Regions from separate parts of the Homo sapiens genome. Here region 2 is linked to region 1. Evidence: fine-mapped expression QTL. Tissue or cell type: iPS cells. Region 1 holds a variant in brackets; the other region holds the start of a gene. All regions are shown on one strand. Distances are between the middles of the regions.

What was found. PIP is the estimated chance that this variant, and not a neighbour inherited with it, causes the effect.
Region 2: it holds the start of TMEM163, and the variant in region 1 is fine-mapped to the expression of TMEM163 in iPS cells (HipSci, PIP 0.95).

The regions. Positions count from the first base shown.
Region 1 is chr2:134,521,637-134,529,901 of GRCh38, reverse strand. The region is part of intron 4 of TMEM163 (transmembrane protein 163); the gene reads left to right. Among named protein-coding and RNA genes, the nearest start is that of TMEM163, 190 kb to the left of the region's middle. The variant C/A (reference allele first, on the strand shown) is at 4,341.
Region 2 is chr2:134,715,868-134,723,867 of GRCh38, reverse strand. TMEM163 (transmembrane protein 163) reads left to right here and starts at 4,868. Exons shown (of 8, transcript NM_030923.5): 1 at 4,868-5,134. The coding sequence starts at 4,933. LOC105373629 (a long non-coding RNA gene) reads right to left here and starts at 5,756. Exons shown (of 2, transcript XR_923354.4): 1 at 5,301-5,756; 2 at 1,344-1,466. RefSeq lists an enhancer at 1,643-2,842 and a silencer at 4,545-4,784.

The DNA.
Region 1 (8,265 bases):
TCTGCTTGGTTACTCGAAACTTTCCTTTTCATGGTTTTTGAAAACCAATTGTAAAAATACATATAGTCTAAATAACATTTCATGATTTTAAAATTAGTATGTACTCATTATTTAAAAACTGGACAATTTTTTTTTTTGAGGTAGGGTCTTGCTGTGTCGCCTAGGCTAGAGTACAATAGTGTGATCGCCGGGGAGATCTTGGCTCACTGCAGCCTCTGCCTCCTGGGTTCAAGTGATTCTCTTGCCTCAGCCTCCCAAGTAGCTGGGACTACAGGTGTGTACCACCATGCCCGGCCAATTTTTGTACTTTTTTTTGTAGAGATAGGGGTTTCTCCATGTTGGCCAGGCTGGCCTTGAACTCCTGACCTCAGATCATTCCACCTGCCTTGACCCCCCAAAGTGCTGAATTACAGATGTGAGCCACCATGCCTGACCAAAAACTGGACAATTTAATGTATGAAGAGTCACCCCTCATCCTACCACCCAGAGAATGGTTAGCTTTTGGAGATTTTTTTCTTTCCATTTCTTTTATGCATGTGCGCAGGTTTATATACATTTTGTTTTTGTTTTTGAGACAGAGCGAGACTCTGTCACCCAGGCTGGAGTATAGTGGCGTGATCTCAGCTCACTGCAACCTCTGCCTCATGGGCGCAAGTGATCCTCCTGTCTCAGCCTCCTGAGTAGCTGGGATTACAGACATGCACCACCAGGCGCAGCTAATTTTTTTATTTTTAGTAGAGACGGGGTTTCACCATGTTGGCCAGGCTGGTCTTGAACTCCTGGCCTCAAATAATCCACTGGCCTTGGCTTCCCAAATGCTGGGATTACAGGTGTGAGCCATAGCATCTGGCCGGGTTGGTACACATTTTTATAAAGCTGAGCTAATGGTACGTGTTCTGTTGTGCATCCTGCTTTTCCCCCCACTTTCTAAAGTGAGCATTTCTTTGTTATTGAAAATCTTGATGTACTTCCTTTTAAGTGTCAATGTTGCATCTTATTGATGCACCGTTATTAACCATTCACCTTAAATACCCAAGTATGGTTTTTCTTCTCCTATTATAACATAGCAGTGAAGGGCTTTATACAATCTTGTGTCTGATTATTTCCTTAGGAAGAATATTTCTTTAAATGCAATTTCTAATCAGAAGTGTGAGACATATTACTAAATTGTCCACTGAGATTGACACTTTGTATTCCAACCAGCACTGGCTGTTTTCATTTTTAAAAATGGACAATTGAAGAGGCAAAGTGGTATCATTACAACTTTTTTTCACTTTTCAAATGGCTTAAGAATTGACCCTAGAGATGTTACTCCAAATTGTTTGGCTGATCAAGATTTTCCAGAATGTTTGTCTAACCAGAGTTTAGTTCACCTCACCATACCCTAACTTTTCTATCTCATTCATAACAATGTTATAAGAAACTCTTATCAGATGCCTTGTTAAAATCAAAATGTATCATCTGAGGCATTCTCCTGGTTTACTAGGTTAGGGAAGCCATCTCTAAAGGAAATGGAGTTAGGCCAGTTAGATTTATTCCTGGTGAACCTAGGTGAGCTGAACAAAATGTTTTTCATTTTGGAATTGTTAGACTAAATCTGTTAAGTAAGCCATCTGATAATTGAAGTAAGCCTTTCATCGGTCTTGAATTTCTAAGATCTGCTTACAAACACCAAGACCCATTTCCCAACTTCTAGAATAGTTTCCTGTTTGCCCTGATTTTTTAAAAGGCTACTGGGAGTTTTTCCATAACAACATGGAATGATCTTTCACCATTTGGGATAATGTGATTTAGGATCTGGATGGTGTTAGAAGGACCAGGTGTTTCTTTTTCGTTCTGTCTTGTTGGACTTCTGTGTCCTCTTAATTAGTTTTATTTTCTGTTCCTTGCCCAGTTGACAGGCCAGAAGTGGTGCTATTCTGTCTTTTGTCTCATGTAAACATTGACCATTCTTCTTGGGTTGTAGTTAACCTGAGAATTTTGTTCTGAATGGCATTTGGAAATATTTTTTCCAAGACTTAGCCCATTTTGGACCTATATCTAACATACATGTTGGCGCTACTCTTTTGATTGTGTCTTTGGCTAATTATTTTCGTATGTTCCTCTTAAATATCACCTCATCAGAGGGCTTTCCATGCTGTTACAGTGATTTATTTATGGGCATCCCATCTCAATCCTGTCATTTTCCCAGCCCGTGTTTGTGGTTTCAGCCAGGACCGGAATGATTCCCAAGGCTAGGACAAGTCATTCCTATAGCCTTGCTCAGGATCCCGGGAGAGCGGGAAGTGGAGAGCCCTGTGGTGTTGGGCTCACTGTCACATACTTTTCTGGAAATTGTAAAGCCCTTAGACCTTCAATTTCCTGCCACAGCTGCTCTTCCCCTTCACTCCTCAACCCTCAGCGATAGCAGCGGGATTTGGGGATCTGGGGCTGTTTTTTTTGGCAAGTGTCTTTTGCACATGTTAAGGATTTGTTGTATTTTTTTCTGAAGGTTTTTCTTTTTCTTAAACTTCTAAAATTTCTTTATAATATACTTTCTAAGGTTTCCTCCCCTTCCTCCCTTCCTTCCTCTCTCTCTCTATAGTAAGTGTATATACACACAAGCATGCACATAAACACATATGCATGTATGTATAGATGCATACACGTATGTAAGCATGTACACTGTATAGATTTGCAGAGGGGTCAGGGCAAGTGAAAGGAGATGGAAGAGACATGATATAATCACCAAGAAGATGAGATTTTATCCTAGTTATAGCTAATAGTCATGACTGACAAATAGTCTGTTATCATGAAAAAGAAAATGAGAAATATGGGAGATTTCATTACCAGAATTAATTGATAACTCCCTAGAAAACTATTTGTGGTGAGGCATTTTTATAGGGTCTTAGTTGAGTGGTTACAGCTTAGACTAAATAATGGGAGACTTCATCTGTTTATCTGTCTTGAACAGCATATACTGAACCGTGCTGTTTTTTAGACATACTTAAGTTTTCATTATTAGGTTTTCTTAGTGAACACTTTTAGGGGGTTGGTAAAAGACAAGGCTTGGAGGATGAGCATTTACCATGTTCTTCTTAAAATATAATGGCCCAGTTAGGGCAAAAGCAGACATGGAACTTTTATGATGCTTTTCCAGTGGTTCTGTAAGAGGACCTGTCAGCCTGCACTGCATTGCCGGGCTATTTTCCCTGCTGGGTGTAAAGTAGCTTACACTCTGATTTTAGAAGTAGCTAATCTAGTTGGAGAGACTTTATTAATTACATAAAAGCTCAGTTTCACATAGTTGATTTGTCTAGCATAATTGTGGAGGAGATTTTAATTCAGCCCCTTCTTGAGAGACTTCTGATGTGGAAGCCTCATAAACTATATGCATAATGGCATATGCTTTATTGTTAAGTGTTCTTTTGGTGATAGGGTTTGTAGGTTTTTCTGTGAAACCTTCTCCGATTTATGGGGGTCTAGGGATAATTATTAGTGGTGCTGTAGGATGTGGAATTGTGTTGAATTTTGGTGGGGCTTCTGTGGGGTTAATAGTCTGAGAGACTTCTGATGTGGAACACTAGTTTACTTAAAATATTTTACTTAACCTTGGGTGGTTGTATAAGATTCTGTTGTCCTGCTAAATGTGTCCTGAAGTGTACGCTCCCTTTTCTTTTATTAAAAAGAAGGAAAAACTCCTTTTCTTCTCCCATCGATTTCCCAAGAGCAAGTGTGAAATGCGAAGGTAAAAGTGACCATGTGTTTGGACCTACTGTGTGCTGAGCAAATCTAGCTTTGCACTAGCTCTGAAAGGTCTAGTGCCCAGCACCATGGTTGGCACTAGAAGCAGCAACACCTGGGGCACACCCGAGGCCTGGCCTGAGCCAGTTCTCCAGCTGTGTTCTCTATACCCTCTGCTGAAATCCCTTCCAACAGCCTGATGAACAAATTTGTTGTGTGAATGCCCGCAGCATCCCTGCCTTCTTATTTGCAAACCGTTCTCCTTGTTGCCTTCCACCTAACTTATCTTAACCCAACTGCCCAGAAACATTCTAGAAAGCTTTTCTGGACTACTGGACACCCCCAGGTCTGGGAGACTGATGCAGGAGAGATGCCCTCAGGTCCAGCTAGGTGTCAGAGGCAGGCTTCTGAGGCTGTCTGAAGGGAATGCCCACCTTGGTCTTGGGAGTGTTAGACAGGGAAGGAGGCAGATTCTGTTTTTAGTGGGTTCTTCCCTAAACACAAACTTGGAGGTCAAAGTTCCATTGAGTGGTTCCAAACTATAGTAAACTTGTCCCCTTAGCCCAGAGGGTATTCTCAAAAGCAAAATGTCTACTTCATTAGGCGCTATCTTCACA[C/A]AACACTTATAATGTCACAACAAAGGGGGCAAGTGCCCTTCCAGTGCTCCCCAGCGATTGATTTTGTAGTTGAATTCCTGCAAAATGGGGGCTTCTTTAATCTAGAGGCGATTGTGATACCCATCTGATGGAGAACACAACAATCTAATTGCAAATGATCAGAAATTCCAAGGAAGCTAAGTCTTATCATTTAACGCGGTGCTGCTCAGACTCCAGGGGCCTCAGAATCTGCTGAGGGCTTGTTAAGGGGCATGCTGCCAGGCCCACCCCAGAGTCTCTGATCAGGAGGGATGGAGTGAAGCTGAGAATTTGCATTGCTAACAAGCTCCCAGGTGATGCAGATGTTGCAAGTCTGGGGAACCACACTTTGAGTAGCACTAATTTATCCTTTTGAAGACGGTGATTCTTATAGTTCACTACACACAGGAATCACCTGGGGAGCTTTTCAAACTCTTGCATTAAATTAAAACCACAATGAAATACCACCTGACGCCAATCAGAATGGCGATTATTAAAAAGTCAAGAAACAACAGATGTTGGCGAGGCTGTGGAGAAATAGGAACGCTATTACACTGTTGGTAGGAACGTAGATTAGTTCAACCATTGTGGAAGGCAATGTGGTGATTCCTCAAAGACCTAGAACCAGAAATACCATTTGACACAGCAATCCCATTACTGGGTATATACCCAAAGAAATAGAAATCATTCTATTATAAACATACATGCATGTATATGTTCATTGCAGCACTATTCACAATAGCAAAGACATGGAATCAACCCAAATGCCCATCAATGATAGACTGGATAAAGAAAATGTGGTACATATATACCATGGAATACTACGCAGCCATAAAAAGGAATGAGATCATGTCCTTTGCAGGGACATGGATGGAACTGGAAGCCATCATCCTCAGCAAACTGACATAGGAACAAAGCCGAACACCACATGTTCTCATAAGTGGGAGCTGAACAGTGAGAACACATGGACACAGGGAGGGGAAGAACACACACTGGGGCCTATGGGTAGGGGGTGAAAGGGGGAGGGCATCAGGATAAATAGCAAATGCATGTGGGGCTTAATACCTAGGTGATGTGTTGATGGGTGCAGCAAACCACCATGGCACATGTTACCTATGTAACAAACTTGCACGTCCTGCGCATGTATCCCAGAACTTAAAATTTTAAAAACCCAAGCTCTCAATTACAGCATTAAATGTTATCGATATTAAAAAACAAAAACTCTTGCATTTCCCCTAGGCTGCTTCCCAGACCAATTACACCTCTATGGCTGAGTGTGGGACCCAAGTGTTAAGCCACCTGGGTAATTCTCGTGTGTAACCAACTTTGACAACCATCGTCCTAAGACTGCAGCTCATTTTAATGCAATTACAAATCAATCTGGGCTATTCAAATGCAGGCTGTAGTTCAGGAAGTCTGGGGAAGGTCCTGAGATTCTGAGATCCTGGGTTATGTCGCTGCTGCTGGTCCAAGAACCACACTTGGGGTTGCAAGGCTCTAAAATATTGGAGTAGAACAGGGTTTCTCAGTCTCAGCTCTGTGGACACTTTGGGCTGGATAATTATTTGTTGTGTATTGTAGAATGTTTAAAAGCATCCCTGGTCTCTACCCACTAGATGCTGTCAACACTCCACCCACTTGGTTTTGACAACCAAAAATGTCTACAGAAAGTGCCAAGTATCCCCTGTGGGAGGGAGTTGGGGGAGAAGTGAGGTGGAGTGGGGGTAAAAATCTCCTCAGGTGAGAACCACTGGAGTAGTGTTACTTACTAAGGCTGGGTTTCAGGACCCCTCCCCACTTCCCGTTTCTCTGTTTAATGGAAACTTTATTTCTTTGACTAGGAGAAAAACCACTTGTCTACCTCTAGACTGATCCTAAATGCCTGGAAGAGGCCTCACCACGATCAGAGTAATTCCTACCAAGATGAATTAGATATCAGCTCCTTTGCTGAGAAACGTGGTGTAATGGTGGCAGGGAGCAGCTGAGGGGAGATTGGGGGAGAGACAGGAGTGCTTTTCTAGGTTTTCTCAGTAATGGATTTTGAAAGACATCAGTAATAGCTTTTTAAGCATTTTTTCTAAATGAAATTTGGCTTATCCTCATTTCCAATCATCTCTGAGTTTTAAAAGCAACAAAACAACTGAGTACCGCACCTCAGCTCTTTCCTGTTACATGAAGTTTTTGGCATGTGACCTTTTAACAAGCTCATGAATAATTCCCTTAATTGACTGGCTGGTGATGTTTTTATTCTGTGGTGTTGTCGCAGTTCAGTAATAGCACACAGACGCTCCGACCCCCACCTGCAGACCCACTCCCAGGCTATTAAATCAGTGAAGGTTGCAAATTGCATGTCTCTCTCACTGTTTTGAACTGGAAGCCCTTTTTACACAAAGCATGTTCATGGTTAATAAAATTACTGTGTACACACGTTTCAGTCTTATCTGTAAGACCGTAATTCTCTAATTTGGTTGAACCACCTCTGGCATTAATGGAGCAGATTGAATGTGGAGTCGTGATTACCAGCACCTCATTATATAAGTGCTGTATGAGGCGGTGTGGTTCTATCCCATCTGTCAGAAAGCCAGCAGGCTGGTAATTAGGAGGGGAATAGGCATCACAACGTCTGCTCAAAGCCACACGGCATTTTTCTTTCAACATGCAAGGGATTCGATCTTTTTCCCCCCGCCCCTTGTTTAAAATCAGCATGTGACTTTAATTCAAGATCATTGGGCAGACAAATGAGAGAAAAATGGGGTACTTGTAACAGTAGGGAAAATTGGGATGAGCCTTAGATATGCCAGTGGAGTAATCATGGCAGGAATAATAAATGACTTTTCTCTTTACTGTTCCCACAGTCATTCGCCCTGTGTGGCTGGCTACCTGTCCTTACAAGGCTGCTTCTGTTGTGGGCAAAATGCCACAGTTGGTGAAGCCACTATGGGATCTGTGGCCTCTAACACAAGCACTGTGGGTTATTTACAAATGTGCCCTCCTAATTTCTGGTTGTGGGACTTTTGGGAGCAAATTATCCAGTCCATGAATCCACAGGCCTTAAAGTGCTAGCACTTCGGATGCTGTCAGTGCCAAGATGGCTTAGTTTCTGGGACTAACCTGCTTAGTTCACCTTTTAGGTGCTCTCTTAGCAGCTGGCTTCTCTCAAATAAAGTGAAGCAAATTCAAACGCATTCCTTCTCTGTGATGAATTCAGCCAGTGTGTTTTATGCTGCTTTCTTTCCTCTTGAGGGAAATCAGATAGTGGGCAGTGCCAGTCTCTCCCTCTTGTGGAAAACAAGCCCCTAGTTGGCCTGGCAGTAATTGTGCCTGGGCAGACAAAGGCTGTCACAGTGACTGTCCTGTTCTTAGACTTCTGGGTGCTCTAGAGCCATCAGTGGAGCTTATAAAGACTCCTGAGTCTAAGCCCACCCCCGCTAGAAATTCTCCACGGATCTAGGATGGGGCAGTATAACAGGTGCCTCAGGGCATGCTTCGGAGAAACGGACAGAAGGAGATGAGAAACAGGATGGTGAGTGTCCGGAGTGGAAGCTTTGAGCCTTATGGGCAGACAAGTCCACATCTCAGCTTGGCAACCTTACATGTTTCTCATACCCTTTGAACTTGGTCTTCCTCGACTGCTTAAATATCTGTCTTCTCAGACAGGTATGAGGAGTGGTGGGAGATAGTGTAGGCAGAGTGTCTCCCCAGTGCCTGCCTCCTAGGAGGGGTTATGCAGGTGCAGCTCTGCATCTGATATGTCCCCGATCCTGGGATTATAGGATGCTCTTCAGCGAAGTTGATGTTCACCTTGTGTGCACAGAGGCTGTGGTGGCCTTTCTGTGAGTTCACCATTGCTCCTTCACAAGCCTTCCTGTTAGCTGGCAGTCCACATGTTACCCAATTTGGTTCTGTT
Region 2 (8,000 bases), 190 kb before region 1:
TGGCTCACTGCAGCCTCTGCCTTCCAGGTTAAGCAATTCTCCTGCCTCAGCCTCCCGAGTAACTGGGATTACAGGTGTGCACCACCAGGCCTGGCTAATTTTTGTATTTTTGGTAAAGACAAGGTTTCACCATGTTGACCAGGCTGGTCTCAAACTCCTAGCCTCAGGTGATCCTTTTGCCTCGGCCTCCCAAAGTGCTGGGATTACAGGCGTGAGCCACTGTGCCTGGCCCCAACTGTTTTACATTATTCACTATTGTGATTATGAAATTAATTCATGGCTAATGCATATACACATAGTTGAAAAATCAATATAATGACCTAAATTATAATAGAGGAGGAATAAAATAAAGTAATACATAATTAATATTTAAATGCTCACTCAGAGCTACACCAGAGGTCACAAATAAGCAGTCAGATATTTGTACCTATTTATAATTTAAGAACAGAGAGTCAGGCACTCTGGAATATTTTTTACACTTTTTCTTTAAATTGCTGTTATTTTGAAACAGGAACTAAAGAAATATACACATATGAAATTACTGGGCTTGTGGGCATCATATATGTGTTGATTGCTGAAACAGATAACATGAATGGAACTGGCTTCTGTGTCCTGATTTTCCAAAGTGGTAAAAAGAGTACCATCCCTTCCTAGACTTATACAGTAGTTGCATTTCCAGAAATTCCTGTGTGTATTCACAAGATGCAAAAACATTTTGTGTTTATATGTAAAACAAAGTTAAAGTTCCACCGTAATTCGATGCACATTTCAACTGAAGCAAAGGTCAGGTCTGACAAATGAAAGCCATGTGGGACACAGACCAATCTCCTGCATCTGGGGCCACCCCCAACTAAATGTCAGTGGCCCCCTCCTCCCATCATTGTGATGACCAATGAAAGTACCTGCAAATTTCCAAAATGCCCCCTAGCGGGCAGTACCCCTGTGGATTATGGTGGTGGGCAGAGGTCGACAAGGCAGATCGGCCTTTGTTTGTTCATCTGTGAAATGAGGACAGTAGTAGCTGAATGAGGGAGACAATGCATGTAAAACACTTAGCTAGGTACCCGGCACATGGTATGTCCTCCAAAAATGTAAGCTAGTGTTATCTTCCAGTTAATCAGCAGAGATTGTTTGAGGGGACACTGTGTCCCCGATGCCCAGGTAGGTGTTTGTAAGGAATGCACATCAGGCAAGCACCACTATCCCTGCTCCACACATGAAATAAATGGTGAATTATTAATCAATTACAGTTTAGAAAAAGGAGCACCCAAAGGGGAGCTGGAGTCAGAGAAATCTTTCTGGAAAAGACAATAGTGGCTTGTTTAACCAGAGCAGCTGGAACATGATGGGAAATATATTTATTCCATGAATAACAAACAACTCCTAGATCCTTGCTTCTCAAAGTGTGGTCTTCAGATATGCAGCATCAGCAGCATCGGGAGGTTTGTTAGAAACAGCATCTCAGCCTGGTGGAAAACAAACAAAAAAAAGAAACTTTTAATCTGAGGAATGCAAGCCCCTTTACATTATCAGCCCCAGAGACTTACTGGAATGAAACAGCAGCAAGTGACAACCATTTGAGTGAAATAATGATCTCTAGAAGCCACTGACTATGTGGGCTCTAGACTAATTTATGCCAAATAGCCATAAAATGGCCATACACTGGACACCATAACTCCTACCCGACAGTTCAACAATCTATAGCCAAGTTATCTCTGCAAACCAATGAGGATTCCTGTCACACAACTTTATATCGGCCCTCTCTTTGTTCCCTTTGCCTTTAAAAACCTGCTTATAACAAAGGCTAATGGAGCACTCCTCAAGGCAACTTAGAAACGTCCTGGGTAGCTGTCCTCATTTGGGCTCAAGCAAATTCTTTCAATTATATTTTGTGCCTCAGCCTCTTCCTTTTAGGTTGACAGCCTCTATCCCAGACCAACTAAATTAGAATCAGCATTTTAAGAAGAATTGCGGATGTTCATTGCCACGCTCACCTTTGAGATGTGCTGGACTTACAGAACCAACTGAGGAACCAGAGGAAAGAATAATGATACCAGTTCCTTTGGTGAGAATCTGCTGCAGACCGTGTGTGTGTGTATGTGAAGGGCACAGAGCTAGATGGTCCATATTGTGGAGAGTAATCATAAAGGGTGGTTGCAGAATAATTGACATCAGAATGTGTGTTGGAGGCCGGGGGGCAAGAGGGGTTTAAAGGAAGGTTCCCAGCCAGATCCCAGATCTATTGAACCAGAATCTCAGAGAGCCAGGGAGGAATAATTTTTTTTTTTTGAGATGGAGTCTCGCTCTGTCGCCCAGGCTGGAGTGCAGTGGCATGATCTCAGCTCACTGCAAGCTCCGCCTCCTGGGTTCATGCCATTCTCCTGCCTCAGCCTCCTGAGTAGCCGGGACTACAGGCACCTGCCACCACGCCCGGCTAATTTTCTGTATTTTTAGTAGAGACGGGGTTTCACCATGTTAGCCAGGATGGTCTCGATCTCCTGACCTTGTGATCTGCCCACCTTGGCCTCCCAAAGTGCTGGGATTACAAGCGTGAGCCACCACGCCCAGCCAATTTTTTTTAAGCCCCCAGATGACTCTTAGAATGGGGAAGTGCCTTACAAAATACCCATGCCAAGGTCCCAGCCAAGAACGATCACGTTAAATATGATATCAGAATCTCTAGCAGTCGAAGCTTCGGTATTTTTGTTCTTAGACTCCCCAGGTGATACTTTGAGAGCCATTGACAGGGGGATTAAATGGGATAGACTGGAGGAAAAAAGTGGAGGAGATGACTCTGCAAATATATCTGAAGGATGTTCTACCTTAGAGGATAGAACCAGGATTAATGGGTAGAGATTTTCATTGTCTTTATCCAAGTAATCATAGCATTTTTCTTTTTCTTTGCAGCAGGAAGGGATCTTTGAAATGACGTAGTTCAACTCTTTCAATTTGTAGTTGAAGAAATTAGTGGTCAACAAGGTAAAGTAAGTTGGTCAAGGTCAACTCAGATCTTCTCATTCCAATCCAGCAACAACAATAATAACAGCAGCAACAAAATAAAGTAAGACCCCTCTCCCCATTTCTGGTGATATTTCCAGTGCACCACAAAGGCATTTAAATCCTACTCTCATTTCAATCACAAGCAAAGCAGACAAGAAAAAGGAAAAGGGTGACTCTTCAAGAAACGAGGAGGACTCCTTTAAATGAGGAATTGACATTTTGGAGTACCCGGATTAAATTCAGAGACTGAATCAATCTAAAGACGAAAGCCGGACTCTAGAGCTTGGATGTTGATACCATTGAAACGGTAGGGGCAGAAAAGGTGTGATACTTTCCTCCCCATCATAAGGGGCACGGCAAACATGCTTATAACAAAAGATAGGCTAATAAGAGAAAAGCGTAACAAATTTATTGAATCAAAGTTTTATGTGATACAGGAGCCTTCAGAAATGAAGATGCAAAGACTCAGGGAAAACTGCCTGTTTTTATGCTTAGATTCAGTGAAGAATGGACAGCCTTATAGAAATGTGATTGGACAAAGGGTGTGATCTAATGGTAATAGACTGAGGGTTGAACCCAGCGAGGCCTGTTCAGATTCTTCTTGGCCTCTCTGTGCAGCATGTATAGAGCAGGACCTCTTCTGGAATGAGGGTCTCAGGATCTACTATCAGACAAGGTAGGTCTGAGTATTTCTTCATGGCCAGCTCCTACACAGAAAGGCAGAGGACCAGGGAGGTTGGAGTACTATTTCTAGGTTGTATGACCACCGTAGGGAAGAGGAATTCTGGTTTCTGTGAACTGCTTAGTGGGGAGAAAGTCGGGGGGGAGACAGACTTTGTTTCTAAGGCGGCTTCAGAGGCCTGTTTAGTTTTTTAGTTCAAACTTAGCATACCAAAGTGCCATACGTTGGGGTATACTTTTCTGAGCCTCAACAAATCCAAGCTGAATTTATTAAACAGCAGGTCCTCTTTTGCTCCTCTCTGGGCATCAAGAGAGCTGGCGTGTGCCCTGCGGTGGACTCTCACTGGTGAGATCAGCCCCACCGCACAAAATGAATTAAGAGCTGCAGGGGTCAGAGTAGGGGAGACTTCTCGTAGAAGGGAGGCTTCCATGGATTTCTGAAGATCACACAAGACTTAGATGAGCAGGGGAGCGAACTGTATGGGACAAAGGCCCAGGAAGAGTCGAAATGGGGAAGCCTCGGAGTTCAAGCATCTTCTATAGCGCCCGCTGTCCTAAAGATACCCCATCCCTGGCTAAATGGGTGCTCCAGGGAGAAACTGGGAGGGGAGTTAAAGCTCCGAGAAGGACGGAGAGCGACGGGCTTGGGGACAGATGAACCCTTTTTCCCTGGATGAGCAGTGAGAATGGAGGCCCAGGCGAAGACCCTGTACAGCCTCTGAAGCCTGTGCAGCTCCAGAAGAGAAAGATGCCAAATTAGGGGCGCTGTCTGCTACCCACGCGCGGCCGCGGGCTTCGCGGACCCCAGAGGAATCCAGTGGGAGGGGTCCCCTCTGGGCACCATCCCGCGGCGCAGGTGGGGCGGGTCCCCGCTACGCCCTAGCCAAGCTCTGCCAGGGCCGCCTGTGGGTCCTCACGCTGGTTCCTCCCTCTCGTCCGCCTCGGTGCGCCGGCTCCCGCGCCCGGGCCTTGGGGCGGGTCCCTGCCGCCCGCACCTGCCCCCAGGGGCGGAGCGCGGCGGCAACAACGCGGCCCCAGCCTCCGCCACCGGCCGCGGAGCCGAGCGGCTCTCCGCTCGTCCCCGCCCCCGCCCGTGCACCTCCACTCCGCGGCGCCCGCCCGCCCTCCCTCCCTGTCCACGCGGCCAGTCCGTCCGCTCCTGCCCCCGCCAGAGCCGCGGCGCCTCGCACTTCTGACTCGAGTCCCCGCCGCGCTTGTCGTCGCCGCCGCCGGGATCCGCAGCCCCGCGCCATGGAGCCGGCCGCGGGCATCCAGCGCCGCAGCTCCCAGGGGCCCACCGTCCCGCCGCCGCCCCGGGGCCACGCGCCACCGGCTGCCGCCCCCGGCCCGGCCCCGCTGAGCTCCCCGGTGCGCGAGCCGCCCCAGCTGGAGGAGGAGCGGCAGGTGCGGATCAGCGAGAGCGGCCAGTTCAGCGACGGGCTGGAGGACCGAGGTGAGCGCGAGCTGCCCGACCCGGCCGGCGACCGGGGTGGCTGCTCGGGGCCCGCCTCTCCCCACTCGCGGGCCGCGCTGGGCGAGGCGCGGGGCTCGGAGCGCGCGGGGGCGCGGAGCCCCGACTTCCCGGCGAGAACGCCGCTAGCCGAGAGCGGCAGCCCCACCTTCTGCGGCCGGCACCGCCTCGGCTGCGGTTCCTTCCCTCGAAGCCCAGACCCCAGCTGCCTTCAGGCCGACCCCGCCTGGACTCGCGCCCTCCTCTCCGCCAGCTCCAGGCCCTCCGGCGCCCACGGGAAAAGTTTGCGGGAGGCATTTTTTGCGTTCGGAGTCGAGCGCTTCTGGGCCACTCCGGGCCCTACTCAGCTCGGAGGGACCCAGGCTCGTTGCATCCTCCTTTCCGTAGTCCCCTGCGGCTCCGCCGGCTGCCTGGGAGAACTTCCCTCTGCGGGTGTAGCCGCGAGATGTCCCTCGGCGGCCGCCCGGCTGCCCGCCCCGGCGAAGGGCGCAAGGAGGGGAGCGAGCCGGGACTCGGGCGGCCTCTGGTCTCGGGCAGTCCCCGATTCTAATCGCGGACGCGGGTCACAGTGGGTCCCTGCCCCGTCGTCTCATGATGGGGCAGAGGAATGGGACATTTGGATTTGGGCCACCAACCTCATCTGGATGGATGCCACTGAAACCTGATGTTTCCGGAGGGCGCGTCTGCAGACCCTTCAGAGCTCCCCTCCACTGACACTGGCCTGGAGGTCAGCACACTTGCCTCTGCTGGGAGACCACACTCTGCCTCCCACCGACTGCCGATGCCCCCTTGAGTCGCCAGTGTAGGACGGGAGAGACTCCCTGCTCGTTCCCGCGTCTCTCTTCTCCATCCCTTCCGCGTTTCCTTTGGGCTTGGATTCTTTGCAGAGGGAGCCCTGTTCTTGGCCGCGTCTGCACCTTTTCTACTTCTTGCTGAATCCGAATCCAAATTGTCCCCCTCAGAACGAATCTGTGGTTCTGCTAAAACCGTTTAGTGGCCAAAGAGGGATTCTTGCAGCCAGGCCCTTTAGGGGAAGCCGGCTCTTTTGCACCTCCACCCCCTTTTCTTGGAAGCCTTATTTTGTTGGCTATGGCGGGTTTATATATTTTAGACTTAGCAGGTTTCTGTCCTATTCTTAGTATCTCCTGTACATTTTTATTCCGGTTTAGTGTTCGGATGCACGATCTCTTTCTCCTTAGAAATTCTAAACTGTAGCATGTGAAATAAAATGACATGGAAACGGCAGTTCCCAGAGAATCCGCCTAGATGCTCAGCGAGAACTGGAGCTGCTCCAGTGGCAACGAATTCTGCACCTCTGTTGCAGTTTCTCCCCCTGTTCTCACATAACTAGATGCCATTTAAGAGGTGAGGACAGGGGACATCACGAGCATGGAACAAAACCTCTCACTTTTATTATAGGATGTGTTCATTACCTTTGCCCCTCTCCAGCTAATATCGTAGGATTTAAAAATTCCATATTGAAGAAAGACAGAAGCCTGGGTTGAGCTTATTTTTGTAGCATTGCAGGTCATCTCTAAGAGCTGGCCTGTTTCTCCCTACCCCACAAAATGATAGGAGGGAAGACAGTGCTAGGGTGAGTTCATATTTAGCATCATTTTGTAGTTCATGTTCAAGTGTAAAAAGCCCTTCTGAATTCATTCTTAAGGTTATTTTTCTCTGGTCAACGGAATTTCATTTTCCATTATATGATAGCATGAAAGCATTGACTGTTCGTAAACTGTCACTGTTTGAGAGCGTGGCATATCACACACAGCCTCTCTGTTAGGATGAACCCTATTCGCCAAAGAACCCGGTGCTGTGTGGCATTGAGAGCTGAACGTCAATGTGACATTCTTTTGTTTGACCTCTTCCTGATGGCAACCAGTATGTGGTGAATAAGTGATTTTTGTTAAGTAAACGAGAACGTTACCTGGGGAGGTTTACTGTAAGATTTTGTGTTTGTTGTTTCTGTTATTTTTTTTCTTATGGGGCTGCATTTTTCCAATATTGATTTTTATATCCTTTGGGAATGGGTTGAGTGCAGCTACCTCTTTCCTGCTGGTGAGAGGAATTGGGGAGGAGGAAGCCCCAGCACTTGCCTGCCGTGTGTCTCTGCATCCTGCCTGGCTTGCTTTCTTTCAGGCCTAAATACCTATAGGCTGTCTGTAGAGGGGTTGAGGGGTACCTCGGATCTGCACCTGTATTTGGCATTCTCTTTTGTCCTAACTCCCTTTGGAGCTATCAGGATGTGGTTCCAGACCACAGTTAACTCTCATCAAAGGTTTGCTTTAAAATCTAGTGTTTTGAGACTTTGGAGGCATTTGCGCCTTAGAAATGATGTGGGCTGGTTCTCAGAAACCTAGCTAGCTCAGAATGTCAGTAACTGCAGTGCCATCTGGTTGAACTTAAAGCTCAGGGAGCAAGAGCTCTGTGGCCTAAGACCTTTGGGGACTAAACACAAAAATTAGGCCAGGTTTATCTTAATCATTCTTCCCATCCCCTTTGAATACCTATTCTTCTCCCTACAAGTATTTTCCCATCATTCTGTCCGTAACCTTAGGGCCCAGCTTAGCCTTAGGTAATTATATGTGTCAGCATTTCCCAGTACTTCCCCATCTAACAAAATTTCCCTTTCTTCACAGAGTTCAAGCTTGACAAACTTAGGAGAAAGGAATTGGAACTAATGCATACTAGTGTAGAAATAACTGATGGCTTCAGCCTCTCCATATGTATTTGTACCTTTCCCCTCTCCAAAATAAATAAAGGATCAGTCTCTCATTAGTACTATGCTTAGTATTCCCAGGCCAAAATTGCAAATTATGAAATTTGAGTGAGTTTAGAAATTCAA